Regions from separate parts of the Homo sapiens genome. Here regions 1 and 2 are each linked to region 3. Evidence: fine-mapped expression QTL. A gene starts in region 3. Each other region holds a variant in brackets. All regions are shown on one strand. Distances are between the middles of the regions. Region 1 holds the start of LOC100129697 (a long non-coding RNA gene). Region 2 holds the start of LOC101927793 (a long non-coding RNA gene). Region 3 holds the start of CBFA2T3 (CBFA2/RUNX1 partner transcriptional co-repressor 3).

What was found. PIP is the estimated chance that this variant, and not a neighbour inherited with it, causes the effect.
Region 1: its variant is fine-mapped to the expression of CBFA2T3 in whole blood (INTERVAL, PIP above 0.99).
Region 2: its variant is fine-mapped to the expression of CBFA2T3 in whole blood (TOPMed, PIP above 0.99).

The regions. Positions count from the first base shown.
Region 1 is chr16:88,934,402-88,939,401 of GRCh38, reverse strand. The region is part of intron 1 of CBFA2T3 (CBFA2/RUNX1 partner transcriptional co-repressor 3); the gene reads left to right. LOC107984871 (a long non-coding RNA gene) reads left to right here. Exons shown (of 2, transcript XR_001752305.3): 1 at 1-1,816; 2 at 2,264-2,624. LOC100129697 (a long non-coding RNA gene) reads right to left here and starts at 131. Exons shown (of 2, transcript NR_168285.1): 1 at 1-131. RefSeq lists an enhancer at 2,938-3,137. The variant C/T (reference allele first, on the strand shown) is at 2,566.
Region 2 is chr16:88,882,650-88,887,649 of GRCh38, reverse strand. It overlaps CBFA2T3 (CBFA2/RUNX1 partner transcriptional co-repressor 3), which reads left to right. Exons shown (of 12, transcript NM_005187.6): 6 at 1,508-1,689; 7 at 2,381-2,604; 8 at 4,889-4,974. LOC101927793 (a long non-coding RNA gene) reads right to left here and starts at 4,135. Exons shown (of 3, transcript NR_135194.1): 1 at 3,432-4,135; 2 at 2,806-3,029; 3 at 514-1,908. The variant A/T (reference allele first, on the strand shown) is at 2,728.
Region 3 is chr16:88,974,840-88,980,156 of GRCh38, reverse strand. CBFA2T3 (CBFA2/RUNX1 partner transcriptional co-repressor 3) reads left to right here and starts at 2,950. Exons shown (of 12, transcript NM_005187.6): 1 at 2,950-3,500. The coding sequence starts at 3,350. RefSeq lists enhancers at 2,529-2,578, 4,419-4,628, 4,281-4,825.

The DNA of each region.
Region 1 (5,000 bases), 41 kb after region 3:
CTTCCGGCAGGCTCCATCTCTCCTGGGATGTGCTGGGATCCTCTAGTGACAGGGGAGAAGGGAAGTTCACATGAGTGGTTCGTGGTGCTGGGGCCGTGCTGTCACCACCTGTGAAGCCAGGGCTGGTGAGTGGGAGGGCTTTCCCCAGACATCGCCTTCCAGAACCCTCTGGGGCTACGAAGCCACACACCAGCCGCCCGAGCCCCCCTGAGCTCTTCCCCTGCCGCCCGCTATCTGCGTAATTCAGTTACCACCTCCAGGAAATCTCTCTGGTTTGGCTCCACGTATTTTCATTTCTGCATGACTGGAAGAAATTAATTTTTCTCCCTACGCGAGGATCTGGAGATGCTGCCAGCAGGCTGGGTCACTAATCCCCAAGATCCCAGCCCTCAGGGCTGCAGTGGGGAGGGCCGGGCCTCGCCGCTGCCGCCTCTGGGGTGGCAGGGAGGGTGTGAGGTGGGTGAGGCATTTCCCTGCCAGCTTCTGGAACCATCTTGGGGCTCTCCGCTGGCCTCCCCCCTTCCCTGCTGCACCGTTAGCAGGTTGACTTTGGGGTTTTCTGATTCATCCTCAGCCTCCCACAGTGCCAGGGTGGAAGGATGGTGCTTGAATTAAGTGGCTCTGAATTTCCTTCCCTGGCAGGGAGGAACCAGAAGCAACTTCAGCGTGCCCCAGTGCCGTGTGTGCCACGCGGGTGTTCAGACCCAGCATGGAGGGACTAGCAGGGCCTTGTTATTGGTGCCACAGGTGAAGGCGCTGGCGTCTCCATGGGGCTGCTCTCCCGGCCCGCACTTGCTGCACTGCCTGCCTGTGGCCTGTGTCTCCTGCTCACAGGGTCGTGGAGCCTTCCTGGGTGGGTCTTAGAGCCTACAACAGCGCTGGGGCTTACACGCACTGTCGCGTCCCTGTAACACCCACGAGGGCCGTGGAGCGTTCCCCGTCTCCGACGCCGGGAGAGGTACAGTCACTCCACAGGTCATGCAGGGAGCCAGTCTGACGGCGGGCCGCAGCGAGTGTCTCCAGGCCCCTGTCCAGCCCCGCCCAGTCCCTGTCCAGCCCTGCCCGGGCGTTCCTTTGCCTGTGCTGTCGGTCCCCATCCCCAGCCTGCCGGGCCACATTCTTAGAGCACCTGAGCACCCCCAAGGGACTGGGGGATCTGGTGGCTGAGGGCTCGGTCATGACTCGGGGTTAGCACTGTAGGTGCAAAAGCCCTCACCTGGATACAGGCCCTGGGGCCCATCTGGGGTCAGGGCACGGGTGGGAGAACTTGACCTCTGCCCTGCCTGGGTCATGGAGCCCCAAGGCCAGCCTCATCCCGGCTGCTCTAGGTCTGCACCTCTGGCCAGCCCCACCTCTGCTTCCTGCCCTGCTGTGCAGGGGAGGGAGGTCGTTGTTGCTAAAGACCCTCCAGAAGCCACTGGAACATTGCCCGGCTATTATCACAGACATGGCATCCAGTGTTCATAGAAATCCACGTCCAGGCAACCGATGTCACCTCCCAGGCTGGCCCCAGGCCCCTGGGGACGGAAAGGACCTAAACTCTACAATTTGTCAATGCCGGAGGGTGGCTTTGCCACCACTTCACTTACAGGACAAAAAGTGCCTGTCCTCCAGTGCTCATTCCCTGGGCAAGTATTGATCGAACACCTACTCCATACCAGGCGGGGGCAGAGTCACATGCAGTGAGAGGCACCCAGGCCCTGCATTGGATCCTCACGGCAGCCAGCCCTGAGGGCACCGCTGCTGCCCCACTTTCCAGACCGGGAAGCCGAGGCCCACAGAAGTTCCTAGCTCACAGCGCAGGAGCCCGACGCGGGTGGGTACCACGGGGCTCTGTCTGTGACACATCCAGGGTGGTCAGGCCCCTGGAACTTCCCACTGAGTTCTGACACGGGAGGGCCAGCGTGGGGACGGCAGGGAGTGGGCCGGGAGTGTGCAGAGTCCAGTGCACACTGTGGGCTGGGACCCGCTGCCTCGCAGGGGCAGGAGAGGGGTGGAAACACAACTGCTGGGGTACTGGCTAGGGAGGTGCAGGCCGCTTGAGGGCAGCTCAGAGGGAGGCTCACGACAGCGTCACCATCCCTGGTGTCAGGGCCAGGTTGGGTGGACACCACGCTGTTCGTCCACCTCGTGGCTCAGTCTCTCTGGGAAAGCCTGCGTCAGTGAACGACACCCCAGATCCTTTCCTGGGGGTTTTATTCTCCACCTCCTGACTTTCCTGGGCAGAGTGAGAAGGCCTGGTTCTGCTTCTGCGCTTCCGTAGGCCGGGACCTTCCTTTCAGCGGAGCCCAGGCCGTGCTGCGGGAAACAGCCCACCGGGCAGGCCTGGGAGGGCCGCCTTAGCCGAGAGCAAATGCAGGCAAGGGCTTTGCTTGTCTGGAAAAAAAATTCCTGGAGTGGAAACCGCCCTTGTAGCATCAGTGGAAAAGACTCAGGCGGAGACCTGGCAGTTGGGCTGGAAACTGACGATGAGGAGAGTGAGAGATAACTGCTCCCCAGTCCCCACTTCTGAGCTCGCAGCTTGCCCCGAGGGTGGGAGCTGGGGACTCAGGACCCGCCGGGATC[C/T]GGCTTTCCGCCTGTGCTGTGGCAATGAGTTTCCTGTGGCAATAAAACAGAAGTTCAGACTTCTGCTTTTTGTAATTCGTGGGACCTCACTGAGAGCCAGATGTCACTGGGAAGGAAAACAAAGATGAATTTGGCCGTAATAAGGAAGATGTCTCCCGGAGCCAAGGCACCAGCAGCCCAGCCGGCAGCTCACCCCGCACTGCTGTCGGCCGCCTGCCTCTGCGTTTCCCGCCCGCTTAGCCACCCAGGGCCGGTTCTGCCCCGTCGGGTCTGGGCAGCTCAGAGCCTCCTCGGCTGCCCCTGAGGCTGAGGTCGTGGTGGATACTCGGCTGCCCCTGAGGCTGGGGTCGTGGTGGATACTCGGCTGCCCCTGAGGCTGGGGTCGTGGTGGATACTCGGCTGCCCCTGAGGCTGGGGTCGTGGTGGATGCTTGGCTGCCCCTGAGGCTGGGGTCATGGTGGACGTGGCAGGAGGAGGTTTGGGGAGGAAGTCCAGGCACCGGGGCAGTCTTCTGTTTACTCAGCAGAGGAAAGTCCACACCGGGGAGGCAGCAGGTGGGACCTGCCGGAGACCAGGATGGGAGATACCTGGGAGACGCCCAGGAAATGCCCGGGGCAGTCAGGAGGGCTCCTGCGCACCCTGGTGGCCCCAGGTCACACATGGAACTCATGAGGAAGTCCCCGCCCAGTGTACCCGACCTCCCTGAGTACCCGGGAAAGCCAGGGTGCCATCAAGCCAGCAGGGGAAGCAGCTCCAGCTGCAGTGAGACCCTCTTACAGGTGGGGAGGGGCTCCCCACGAGGGCCAGGGGTGACTGCAGCCCCCTGCCCTGTTCCCGGAGGCAGCGGGGAGGGGGATGGGCAGCCCCTCGGTTTCTTGGAGCCCCCACCTGGATTCGACTCCCCTCCCAGCAGCTGCGTGACCTACACCACATATTCCCATCTGTCCCTCGGGTCTCAAACGCAAAATGCAGTCACAAAGGCATTTACCCCTTCGGGCTGTGATGAGCTGGGATGTGTGTGTCTGGACTGGGACCATCAGCCTCGTCCCTTTTCTGGGGGGACACCCGGTGGTGTCCTGAGGCTCAGTGGTGGATGCGGCATGATGCAGCTCTGCACCCAGGCCCCCTTCTCTGCAGGCCCCCGAACAGAAGTTCATTGTCTGCACCTTTGCAAAATGGGGTGGTCCAGAGAGACCACCTCGATGGTCAGACTCTGGCACAGCCCAGACCCCAGGCCCTGTGCCTGCTCCACCCACGCGAGGACAGCCTGCAAGCTTGGGGCCAAGCCCTGGGCCCCCGGGTGCACCACGCCACCTGCAGACCCATTTACAGAGGGGAAACTGAGGGTAAGATCAGTTGTACTCTAGTTACTCCCTGTCAGAGGCAGAATTCCCACTTGGGAGCCGAGGCCACCTGACTTGGGCCCTCCAGAGCCTAGGTATTTCTGCACCACCAGGGTCCCCACGCAGGTGGTGGGGGGCTCTCACCAGGCCTGGGGATTGCCGGGCCCCTCCCCTTGCCTTGGCCACCACACCAGGGCTCCACAGCCTAGTCCAGCCCAGCCTGTACTCAGAGCGCAGTGGACATGGGGCCCTTCCATGCAGCCTCTCCTGCGCCAGAGACATCAGAACCCAGGACTGCCCCTGACCGGGGGCAGCGTTGGGTCTCTGGGCCGTGGCTGTGCCCAAGTGGACAGAACAGGGGCCTTGGGTGCTGGACTCCACGTATCCCTGTGCCTGATGGAGGCTTGCAGCTCCACCACGTGGCCTTCAGCTCCCTTAAAGAATGCGTCCTTCTGGCCAGGCACGGTGGCTTACGCCTGTAATCCCAGCACTTTGGGAGGCCAAGGCGGGTGGATCACGAGGTCAGGAGATCGAGACCATCCTGGCTAACACGGTGAAACCCCGTCTCTACTAAAAAATACAAAAAATTAGCCGGGCGTGGTGGCGGGCGCCTGTAGTCCCAGCTACTGGGGAGGCTGAGGCAGGAGAATAGCGTGAACCCGGGAGGCAGAGCTTGCAGTGAGCCGAGATCGCGCCACTGCACTCCAGCCTGGGCGACAGAGCGAGACTCCGTCTCCGAGAAAAAAAGAATGCGTCCTTCTGAACTTCGGGGGTGGAAGAGGGCAGGGCACGGCCCTTCGTGCCTCTTTCGTGGCATCTCTGCCTCCTTTACCAGGCCCTGCCAACAGCAAGAATAGGCAGGCAGCGAGGCCAGACTCCTCTCCGCTCCTCTGGGCCTCCGTGTCCCCATCTGTCCCTTGCGGGGGTTGGTCAGCACCACACACTGTGCACAGGGAAGATGGAGCCTCGCCTGTCGCCCCCCGATGGTGCCGGCCGTGCCGGCCAGGTGTGTGGCTGAGACCCTCTCTGTGTGGCCCTGCTGGCTGCTGTGTCCCCACCGTGCCTCTGCGGCCGAGCTGCTCCTTCAGGGTC
Region 2 (5,000 bases), 92 kb after region 3:
TTCCGCAGGCCTTGAGGAAACATTCCCTGCTTGCCGAGGGCTGCTGTGCATCCGGCCCCTACGCTGATGCTGCCCAGTCCTGGGTTCTCTGCACCCTTTCCTGAGCCTGCCCCACACGCAGCCCAAGGGTCAGGCCTTCCAGAAGCTGGGGGATGCAGCCCCACCCACCGCCCCGGCTCCCAGCTGGCCTCAGCTGGCCCCAGCCAGCCAGGGATCCAGATGTTCTCCCCGCCCTAACAGCGACCAGCCGGTTCCCGAACTGACCAAGAGGAGGCCCCTGGGGAGGGGCTGATGAGGGAGGGAGGATGTTTGGCTCCTCAGACCTCCCGGGACCTCGTTTCCCAGCTCATGCTCCTGATGTCCTCAACAGATGGCCGGTTGGCCCCTGTTCAGCCATCCAAAGAGAAAAACAGGCCGGCAGCCGGCACTGCTCGAGGGCCTGGTGGATGCACTCGTGGGGAATGGGGAGGCGCTGGCAGGAGAAGGCGGCGTGGCAGCTTTGAAACGCATGAGAAAGTTGGGGAATTGGATTTATTTACAAATGCTTAGAACCGCTGGCTCTCCCAAGTGGCCTGCTGCTGGGCCCTGGTCCAGCATGCTCAGGGTCCAGCACGCCTGTCCGCCCTCCCGCGGCAGCTCTGGGAAGACTTTGGGGAAGGCACCCGAGGAGCCCGGCTTGCGGCCCAGCAGTGCCAGCCTGGAGCCAAGGACGAGGCGGCGGGCGCCGCGGGTACACACAGGCGTCAAAGGCAGGGTCTGCATACGGATCCCGTACACCGGGCCGTCCTTCGGCCGCATGCTGCGGAGTCTTTACCCGCACACGTGGGTCTTGAGGCCGTCCTCACCAAGGCTGGAGGATCACTTGAGCAGCCACAGAACGTGGGTGTCCACGTCCTAGGTCCACGCTCCATCAAGGCCAAGGCTGGAAACCAGCGGGAAGGGAAGGGGAAGCTGAACCTCAGGGCTTCCCATCAGGGCTGGAGCAGACACACTGCAGGCAATCCCAGCTGGGTTTCACTCCCAGCTCCCTCGTGTGAGCCGCCTGTAGGCCCAGGGCTGCCTCCCCCTCTCTGAGCCTGCATTTCCCCAGCTGTGTTGGGTCATGTGGTGCCTGCTGGGCAGGGCGGGTGCAGGCGGGAAGACCAACCATGATCTGCTGCCCCTTCGTCCTCTCGCCTTCTCCAGACCACGCCATGGGAGGGAGCTGGGTGCGGTGGGAAAGCCCCACCCTGGGAGTCCAGGATCTGGGCTCAAGTCCCACATGCCCCACATCGCCGTGTGGCCCAGGTGAGGCACTCCTGCGAAGCTCTGTGCCCACCCTCCCACGCCACCCTCCCATGGCACTGCTAGGAAGGAACTTGAGGCCCAGAGAGGTCGAGCACCTTGACCTTTGAGGCCCGAGGTCAAGTTGAGCTTTCGGCCACCCAGCCCAGGCCCCCTCTGCTCGGACCTGAGCAGGGCTGTGCACCCCTGCATGCTACCCAGGCCCTCCTTCCCCACCCCACAGGCAAACCTGCCCTTGCTGCAGCGGGAGCTCCTGCACTGTGCACGCCTGGCCAAGCAGACGCCCGCCCAGTACTTGGCCCAGCATGAGCAGCTCCTGCTGGACGCCAGCGCCTCCTCCCCCATCGACTCCTCAGAGCTGCTACTGGAAGTCAACGAGAACGGCAAGAGGAGGACGCCCGACAGGTACCTGTGGGCTCCGGGGATCTGGGCTGGGGGTGCCGTGGACACGCGGCTCACCCTGCTCCCCTCTGGGTAAGAGAGGGAACCTCCTCTGGGGCTGCAGCCAGCCCGGCCGGCTCTCTCGGGCTGAGGGAGCGTGGCGAGGTGTACTAGGGCCAGCAGGCTTGGTGGCTGCACGGGCGGACACCCCAGTGGGCTGCAGACTCAGATGCTCCGGGGAGCCTAGGAGGACAGGGAGGAGGCTGGTGGGAGGACGGCTCTCCCCTGTGTGCCGGGCATGGACTCCGAGCGTCCGGGGTCCATGGTCCCCAGGTGCCTGGGCTGGGCCCCCTCTGCTGCCCCAGACGCTCTTGTGCTGCTGCTGCCCAAGGGGCAGGTGGTCTCCAGTTACGGAAGCCTGGTGTATCCCTCTCCTCGTTCCCAGAGCAGCGAGTCCGGCTCTTTGACCACCAGGCCCCAGGATGCCATGCAGCTGGAGCAGGGGTTGAGGCTGGCATGGGCCCCGGCAGAGGGGCAGAGAGTGGGGGCGCCGGGCTGGGCTTCCCGGGGCTGGTGTTTTGCTCCGTGTTTCTGTCTCGCCCTTACGTGTCCTCTTTCTCTCTGCCCTTGCCTGTCTGCCTCTCACCCCACCTGCACCTCTGTCCCCGGTTCATCCTATGTCCACTGCCCTCGCCCCACCTGCTCTTGGGGCTAGGACCAAAGAGAACGGGTCAGACCGCGACCCGCTGCACCCCGAGCACCTCAGCAAACGGCCATGCACCCTGAACCCTGCCCAGCGCTACAGCCCCAGCAACGGGCCACCGCAGCCCACACCGCCGCCGCACTACCGCCTGGAGGACATAGCCATGGCCCACCACTTCCGAGATGCCTACCGCCACCCAGACCCCCGGGAGCTACGAGAGCGCCATCGGCCGCTTGGTGAGCAGCCCGGTGGGGCGGGAGCGTGGACGCGTGTTACAGGAGCACACATGCGCCCACATGTACACCTGAGCATGTGGGCACAGGGCACCACGGGCAGCTGTGTGCACCTGAGCTCGGGAG[A/T]CCCCTTCCCCCTGCCTGGCATTCCCCCTGGAGCAGAGCGGTGGCTGCAGAGGGGCCTGTCCTGGGCCCTGAACCCACCTCTCCCCCCGGGGTGGGCGGCCTCGGGCCTGGAACTGCCCACGTGGTTCTCATCCGAGCTTGGCGATTCCCACAGTCCACCCACAGGTGAGTCACGTGGCTCTCTGCTTCTCAGTTTCCTCCTCTGTCACCTGGGCCAGACGAGAGTCCCAACTCTCAGAGTCCAAGGCCTGGGGGAGTTAATGCAGGGCCCAGCAAGGGCTGCCGTGAGGCCTGGCTGGTATCTAGAGCAGGAGAGGGGCACAGAGTCTCTGCGTGAGGCCAGGCTGGTGTGGATAACAGAGAGGTGGGCACGGAGTCTCGGTGCATTTTATCCTTCACTCGTTTCTGAGCCCGTCAGTGGGGTGGCGTCAGCACCCCCATACCACAGATGAGGAGACTGAGGCCTGAGAGCACACATAATGCACCCACAGTCTCACAGCCCAGCCTGCCTGACGTTTTGACGGCCTCTGTGCTGAGAACCCAGAGATGGTCAGGCCCAGCCCCACCCCAGGAGCCCCCCCAGGACAGGCTGCAGGGAGGCCTCCAGTCTGCCATGCTGAGACAGAGGCCCAGGGCCCGGTGGGGGCCCAGCAGCAGGGTCAGCAGAGGCCTTGCCCTACACAAGGCCATCTCCCAGCCCCCACCTTGCGGAGGGTTCCAGGGCCCAGGCAGCAGGTGACGGCGTCTGGCATGCTGCAGCCGGGTCAGGCAGGTGCTGACTCCCACCCGATTCTGCTAATACAGAAATAAACGCCAGCTGTCGGGCACGTCTCAGCCACTATTTTGGTTGGGGTGTTGCTGCCAGCTGCAGCTTCACAGGCGGCAGAGCAGGCTGGTGACTGAGCTGTGGCTGCCACTTCCCCACCTCCTCTGCAATTTGGGGGAGCCATTTCAGGTTCGGAGGCTAGGAGATCTTTAGGGGCTGAAAAGGGCCCCAAGAGGGAGACCTCAGCCCCAGAAGCGTGGGCAGTGGCCAAATGCAGAAAACAGTGGGGCCTGGAAGCCTCTGATGTCTCCAGAAGTCGTGGGCGCAGCTACCACGAAAGAGTAAGCCACTGCCGGGCGTCACTCACGTCTCCCGTGGGCACAGCCACCGCAGAAGAGTTGGCCACTGCCGGGCATCACTCACGTCTCCCGTGGGCGCAGCCACCGTGGAAGTCGGCCACTGCCGGGGTCACTCACGTCTCCCGTGGGCGCAGCCACCGCAGAAGAGTCGGCCACTGCCGGGCGTCACTCACGTCTCCCATGGGCACAGCCACGGCGGAAGAGTCGGCCACTGCCGGGCGTCACTCACGTCTTAGTTTCTGGTGACCTGTGGGAGTGGCCTCTGCGGCTTCAGTCCTGGAGCCTGTCAAAAGGGAAAAACCTTAGACACGCTGTATTGAACAGAGTTTAACTGAGCAGAGAACAACCCCGAATAGGATGGGCCTCAGAGCCAGCGTGTTCCGAGAGCCCTGGCCTCGGCTTGGCTGGCGGTGTTCACAGGCAGAGACAGGAGGCGGGTGCCGAGGCCACGTGGTTGGGTGGTGTTTGGCGTGGCTTCATCGGAGTCATGGGCGCCTGCGGGTGACCGCAGAGGGCTGCCGCGAATGACTGAGACCAGCTCCTCCCAGTGAGGTTACCCATTGATTCACGGACTAAGGCAGGTCCAGGTCATGGTGTGACTTGGCACTGAGGCATCCTCAGGCCACGCTTAGTCTAACAAAGCCTTCCCGGCCAGTGGCTGAGGACACTGCTCCAGCTCCAGCCAGCCTCGGTCCACACCCCACCCCCACCGCTCCCTGCCTGGTGACCACAGGCAAACACATCCTCTTAACCAGCCTCAGTTTCCTCAGCTGCAGAATGGGACTGAGACTGAACCCTCCCTTGGAGGCGTGTGCCGTGTTGCAGGGGAAGAGCAGTCGGCCCAGAGCCCCAGGCGGCTCAGTAACCCAGGCATCCTCCACGGTCACCAAGTCAACCAGCCCTTCGGTTACCCTGTCCATCGTCCCCAGCGGGCACAGCCCACGGGTGGGGCCTGGGAGCAGAGGGCGGGGTCTGGGAGAATAGGGCAGAGACTGGCTGTGGGTGGGACCTAAGCGTGCACCTCCCCCATCCACAGTGGTGCCTGGGTCCCGGCAGGAAGAAGTGATCGACCACAAGCTCACAGAGCGTGAGTGGGCAGAAGAGTGGAAGCACCTCAACAACGTGAGTGTCCACACACAGCCACGCCC
Region 3 (5,317 bases):
ATCCATCCACCACCCATTCACCCATTTATCCATCCATCCATCCATCCACCCATTCACTCATCTATCCACTCATCCACCCATTCACCCGTCTATCCACCCATCCACACATTCACCCATCTATCCACCCACCCACCCACACACCCATCCACCATTCATTCACCCACACACCCATCCATCTACCTACCCACCCATTCACCCATCTCTCCATCCACCCACCCATTTACCCATTTATCCATTCATCCATCCACCCATTCACCCATCTTTCCGCCCATTCACCCATCTATCCATCCACCCACCCATCCACACATCTATCCATCCACCCACCCATCCACCCACTCACTCACTCACCCATCTATCCACCCACTCACCCATCTATCCACCCATCCATCCACCCATTCACTCATCCACCCACCCACCCATCCACCCATCATCTACCCACCCATCCACTCACCCACCCACCCATTCATTCATCAATCTATTCATTCATCTATTCATCCAGCAGTGAAGGGTGTGTGTGTTGGGGGTGGGGGGGTTCCTACATGCTAGAAGAGAAGGCAAACATAAGACACCCTGCCTGAAGGAAGGCCTCCTCACCCACCCCCACATGGCGTCATCTCCCCCACTGCCCCCTCACCCTCCTCCAGTTCTCTGGCCATCCTACAGATTCACCAAAGCCTGCCTTAGGGCCCCTCTGCCCACCCAGGGACAGTTTCCCCAACTGCCCTATGGGCCCCACATGCTGGGCCATGTTGATGGAACGTGTCTCCTATAGTTCCCAGAGAGCAGGACCAGGGGCTGTCTTGGACACCGAAAGAACCCCAGTAGGCCCTAATAGGTCTTTTAGGAAGGAAGGAAAGGCCCCTCCTGCCCCGAGAGGCTGGGTGCTGGCTGCAGACAGCAGAGGTCCCTGGGAGAAGCCGAGGCCCCTCCTGCTGCCCCCACCTCTGCAGCCACTTCCTCCCCAGCCCCTTATCTCCTGGCCGCCCAGCTCTGAAAGCCACAGCCAACGTCTGCTTCCCCACAAGCACCAACTGCCCGGCCTGGGGGAGAGGAGGCCGGTAGTGGGGAGGTGGGGAGTGGTGCCCACACCCCCAGGTGGCCGCCAAAGTTGGGGGGCAGCTCCTGCCCCCAACTTGTGGGCAACTTTCTTCTCTTCTCTTTCCAACCCCACCTCCGTCAGACCCCCTGATTAGACACCAGGCAAGACGGGGCCAGGCGGGGAGCTCAGGGCCTCATTGCGAAAGTGGAAGTGTCCCATCTGTGGGGGGCGCAGGTGCAGGCCTCGAACATCTGCCTCAGGGCTGGGGGCAGGGCTGCCTGTCTCCTACCCCGGGTGGGGGGAGCCACCACCCTCACCCAGGGTGCTGTCCTGCTGCCTCACGGAGTGGGGGCTGTGCCCCCTGAGACCCTCAGTTCCCCGACTCTGAGACTCTCACTGCACACAGCTGGGGAATAGGCACTGACACAGACCAACCCCAGCCACATGCTCACGGTGGCCCCGGCCCATGTGGCGGCTCAGAGCCTCTGCTGTCTCCACTCCCGGAAACGCTGTAGGAGCTGACGCCGTTAGGATCGTGCACCCTGCACAAATGAGGAAACCAGGAGGGTCAGGGCCCCCAGGACCCTCACTGTGAATCCCACCCTGAGCCAGAGCACAGGGAACAGCAGGGGACGTGGGGACCGAATGATGGCACCAGGGGATGGGCCCCGGGCTGGCAGGAATGTCCCCTCCAGCCTCAGTCCTGGGGGCAGAACGGCCGACCACCCAGGGCAGGGGAGGCCCCGGGTGGGCCTGGCGTCTGGGAAGTTCCCCAGCAGGAACAAACACATCCCCACTGTAAGCTGGACACACACGCTGGCATGCAGCTTGTTGTCACCAACTCGAGAAAGACACTCGACTATTGGGACAGGGAGACCCGGGACACCTGGAGACCCTGCGGGGAAGGAGTCGGCTTTTACTCCTGCACGGCTTGAATTATTAACTGCGTGCAAACGTGACCTAAAACTCAAATCAAATCAAATCAAAATAGCACAGATGCCCGTGAGCCGGCCCTGGGTCTGCGGGCTCCACACCTCTGGCCTGTCTGAGGCCGGGAAACCTCCAGCCATGGCATCAGAAAAGCCACCGAACCAGGGCTGCAGGGCCGAAGGGTCACTGTCCCCTCCCAGGAAGCTCCTGCCCTCTGACAGTTGTCAGGGAGCTTTAGAAAGTGGCTTTTTTTCCCAGCATCTGGGATGTGCCTCACTCTCTCAGCCCAACGGCCGCTAGAAAGGGGTCCTAGGACTCTCCCTAGGGTCTAAGTAGTCCCAAGAGTGCTCTGAGGTGGCTTCTGGAATTTCCCAGACTGGAGAAGCCACCTACCCCCGACCCCCGCAAACTCCAGGCTGCTCACCGGAGGCGGCCGCTGGGGCGTGGGGTGAGGGTCTTTCTGAGGCACCCCCGGAGAGTGGGGGAGCCCTGCTGTCTCCACAGAGGGCCAGGAGCCCTGTGCACGAGGCCAAGCAGAGAGAGAGGGTTTCCTTCCCAGCAGGCGGGAGGTACTTTGAGGACAGGTCAGGTGCCCAAGAACCCCGGAGCAGGGGCTGAGGAGAGGCTGGTCAGAGGCCCCGCCTTGCTCAAGGGCACAGTCAGCAGACACAGGAACACGGGCAGGGTGGCCCCTGGAGCGGGGGCAAACTAAAAGGGGTGCTGGGGAAAGCTCGGCTGACTGAGGGCTAGCGGAGAGGGAGGACACCCCCAGATACCCCAGGCTGAAGGAAGGGCCAAGCCCTGGGGGGAAGATGGGTGGGCGGGACAGGCCAAGGGCTCTGGGCCAGGATGGAGCTGCCCTCAGGCCTGCACACCTGCCCTGGGGCCGAGGAAACACATGCCCAGTGGCCACGCTGTAGGGCTCAGGGTGGGTGGGACGTCACCAGAGCTGCCTGGGAGGAGGAAGTTGTTGGAAGGTCAAACCGGAATGGCCCGAGGGAAGGCCGCGCAGGGCAGGGCCCCAGATGGTTCCTGTCAGGGAAGTGGCGGGCGCAGCTGCAGGCCTCCGGCCCCGGCATTATCACGGGGACACAGCTGGCTGCCTCACCCGCAGGCTGCAGGGAGACCTTCCCCAGCCTGCAGCCCCAGGCCCGCCCCGCGTCACATGAGCCCCAGGGCTCCCACCCCCTCCCCAGGGCAGAGGACACCCAGTTGGTGGCCGGGAGGGCCTCGGCTTTCCAGGGACAGAGGCCCAACTCCAGGACGCCCCAGCTGGCCCAGCCCCTCCTCTTTCCCTCAAGGCTGCAGGAGGTCGGGAAAGGCAGTCCTGGTAGAGGCCTGTCCTGGGCTCCAGGTTGGCCCCTGAGGGTGGCCCTCCTCATGCCGGCTTCAAGACTGAGGGACAGGGCAGCCAGTTCAGCCTCGGGATCCACCTGTGGCTCCATGTCCCAGACGCACCCTGTGCTGGAGAGCGGCCTCCTGGCATCTGCCGGCTGCTCCGCACCCCGGGGTCCCAGGAAGGGCGGCCCAGGTAAGAGGCTCGAGGGGAAGGTGGTGGGGTGGGGGCAGAGAGCGGCAGCCGGTGCCGGGGCTGTGACTCCTTAGAGCTTCGCGGGGCCTGCCCAGCTTAGTTGACAGTGCCGGCACGGATGGCCGTGTTGACTCACCTCAGATATCAACAGGGCCACCCCACAGGCAGGTCCTGCACAGCTGGGGCAGGTGGGCTGGTGAGGGTTTGGCAGGTGCCAGCCAGGTGCCCCAGCCCCACCCAGAGGCAGATGCTGGAGGCCGGGCTGCTCAGCCCCGTCTAGGAGGGTGGGCTGTGTTCTCCTGGGGGTGGGAGGGCCGCAGCCGGGAAGTGATGGGGGGGTCCTAGAAAGAGAGCCCTCCTCCTCCTGGGATGCCCTCCGGGTGTGACACCTCACAGCAGGTTGGATGAGGAAACTGAGGCCAGAGGGGAGGGCACTGGCCCAAGACCCCGGTGAGGAGGAAATGGACCCAACCCTGGGCCCCTGTCCGAGGAACGATTCCAGCCAGGGCAGTGGGGGTTTACGGGGAACCTGGGCCTGCCCTTCTGGGGGCTTCGGGCTCTGGGGAGGGGTCCAGTCCAGCAGGACGCCAGCTATTGCTGATACCCCCCACCCGAGCCTGCGAAGTCCCAGGACAAGGATCCCCGGACGCTGGGGGCTGCAGCTGCAGGCTGGTGGCCCCGATTCCCAGTGGCCCTCGTGGCCACACTCCCAGCAGCCGTCGGAACCTTCAGGAGCTCACAGTCTCCCGTCTCGCGGGGCTCTCACTGAGGCCGTCAGGTCCAAGGTCTGACTGCACCCCTGACACTCACACACAGAACCCGGGACCGAGGGGTGTCCCCATCTCTGGAGACCACATTCCCTGAGCAGGTCCTGGCGGCGGCTGCCTGAGGCTGTTCCCACCTGCAGCTGCCCGTGGGGCCCCAGGGCCATCCCCCACAAGGGCCCCAGATGTGAGCAGGAACTTCCCAACCCCGGGTGCCCGGAATGCAAAGGCCGGACCTCACCACAGCCAGTGCTACTGTTCGTTTCTCCCGAATGGGTGACTCAGAGCCACCTTCAAGGCAGCACCAGCCCACTGGCCCTGGCATCTGCCATCCCGTCCTCTCTGGAGCGGCCCTGTCTATCCCCTGGCGCTGAGTGGCCTTGGGCCGGGTGCTTCCTCCCTGGGCCTCAGTTTCCTCATGGTTCAGACCCTTCCGACCTGCTCCCCGCGTGAGAGCAGGTTCTCACCGGCGCGGAGAGAGACGGGCTCTGAGGCGCATGGAGAGCCGCCGCTTTGTTAGGATGGGGGCGTCTACTGTGGAAGGACGGGGGTGTCTACCGTGGAAGGAGGTTAGGGCCAAGAGGTGGCCCCGTGCCTGAGTCATGCGAGGGGCTGCTGGCTAGAGGCATGAAACAGAGGGTCAGGGCGGGCCTCTGACATGGCTGCAGGTGAGGAGCAGAGGGTCAGGGTGGACCTCTGACATGGCTAAAGATGTGGAGCAGAGAGGGTCAGGGTGGACCTCTGACATGGCTGCAGGTCAGGAGCAGAGGGCCAGGGTGGCCTCTAACACAGAGTACCCAGCCACTGTGCCCACCCCCAGGGAGCCCCTGCTTAGGGGCTGCAATGTGAGGAGGGAGCAGGGTCTCACTTGGGTGCGGGGTCCTGCCCCTGGCTTCTAGGGGCTTCTGTCCGTGCAACCACCCGGCCCTATTCCAGGGTACCCATGGGACAGCCTTAGCCACATCAGGCAGCAGAGTTACATGTGAATACCAGCACTTGGGGCTTCTCATCCTGTACCCCAGGGGCCTCCCAAGGCCCCCAGGGGACAGATGT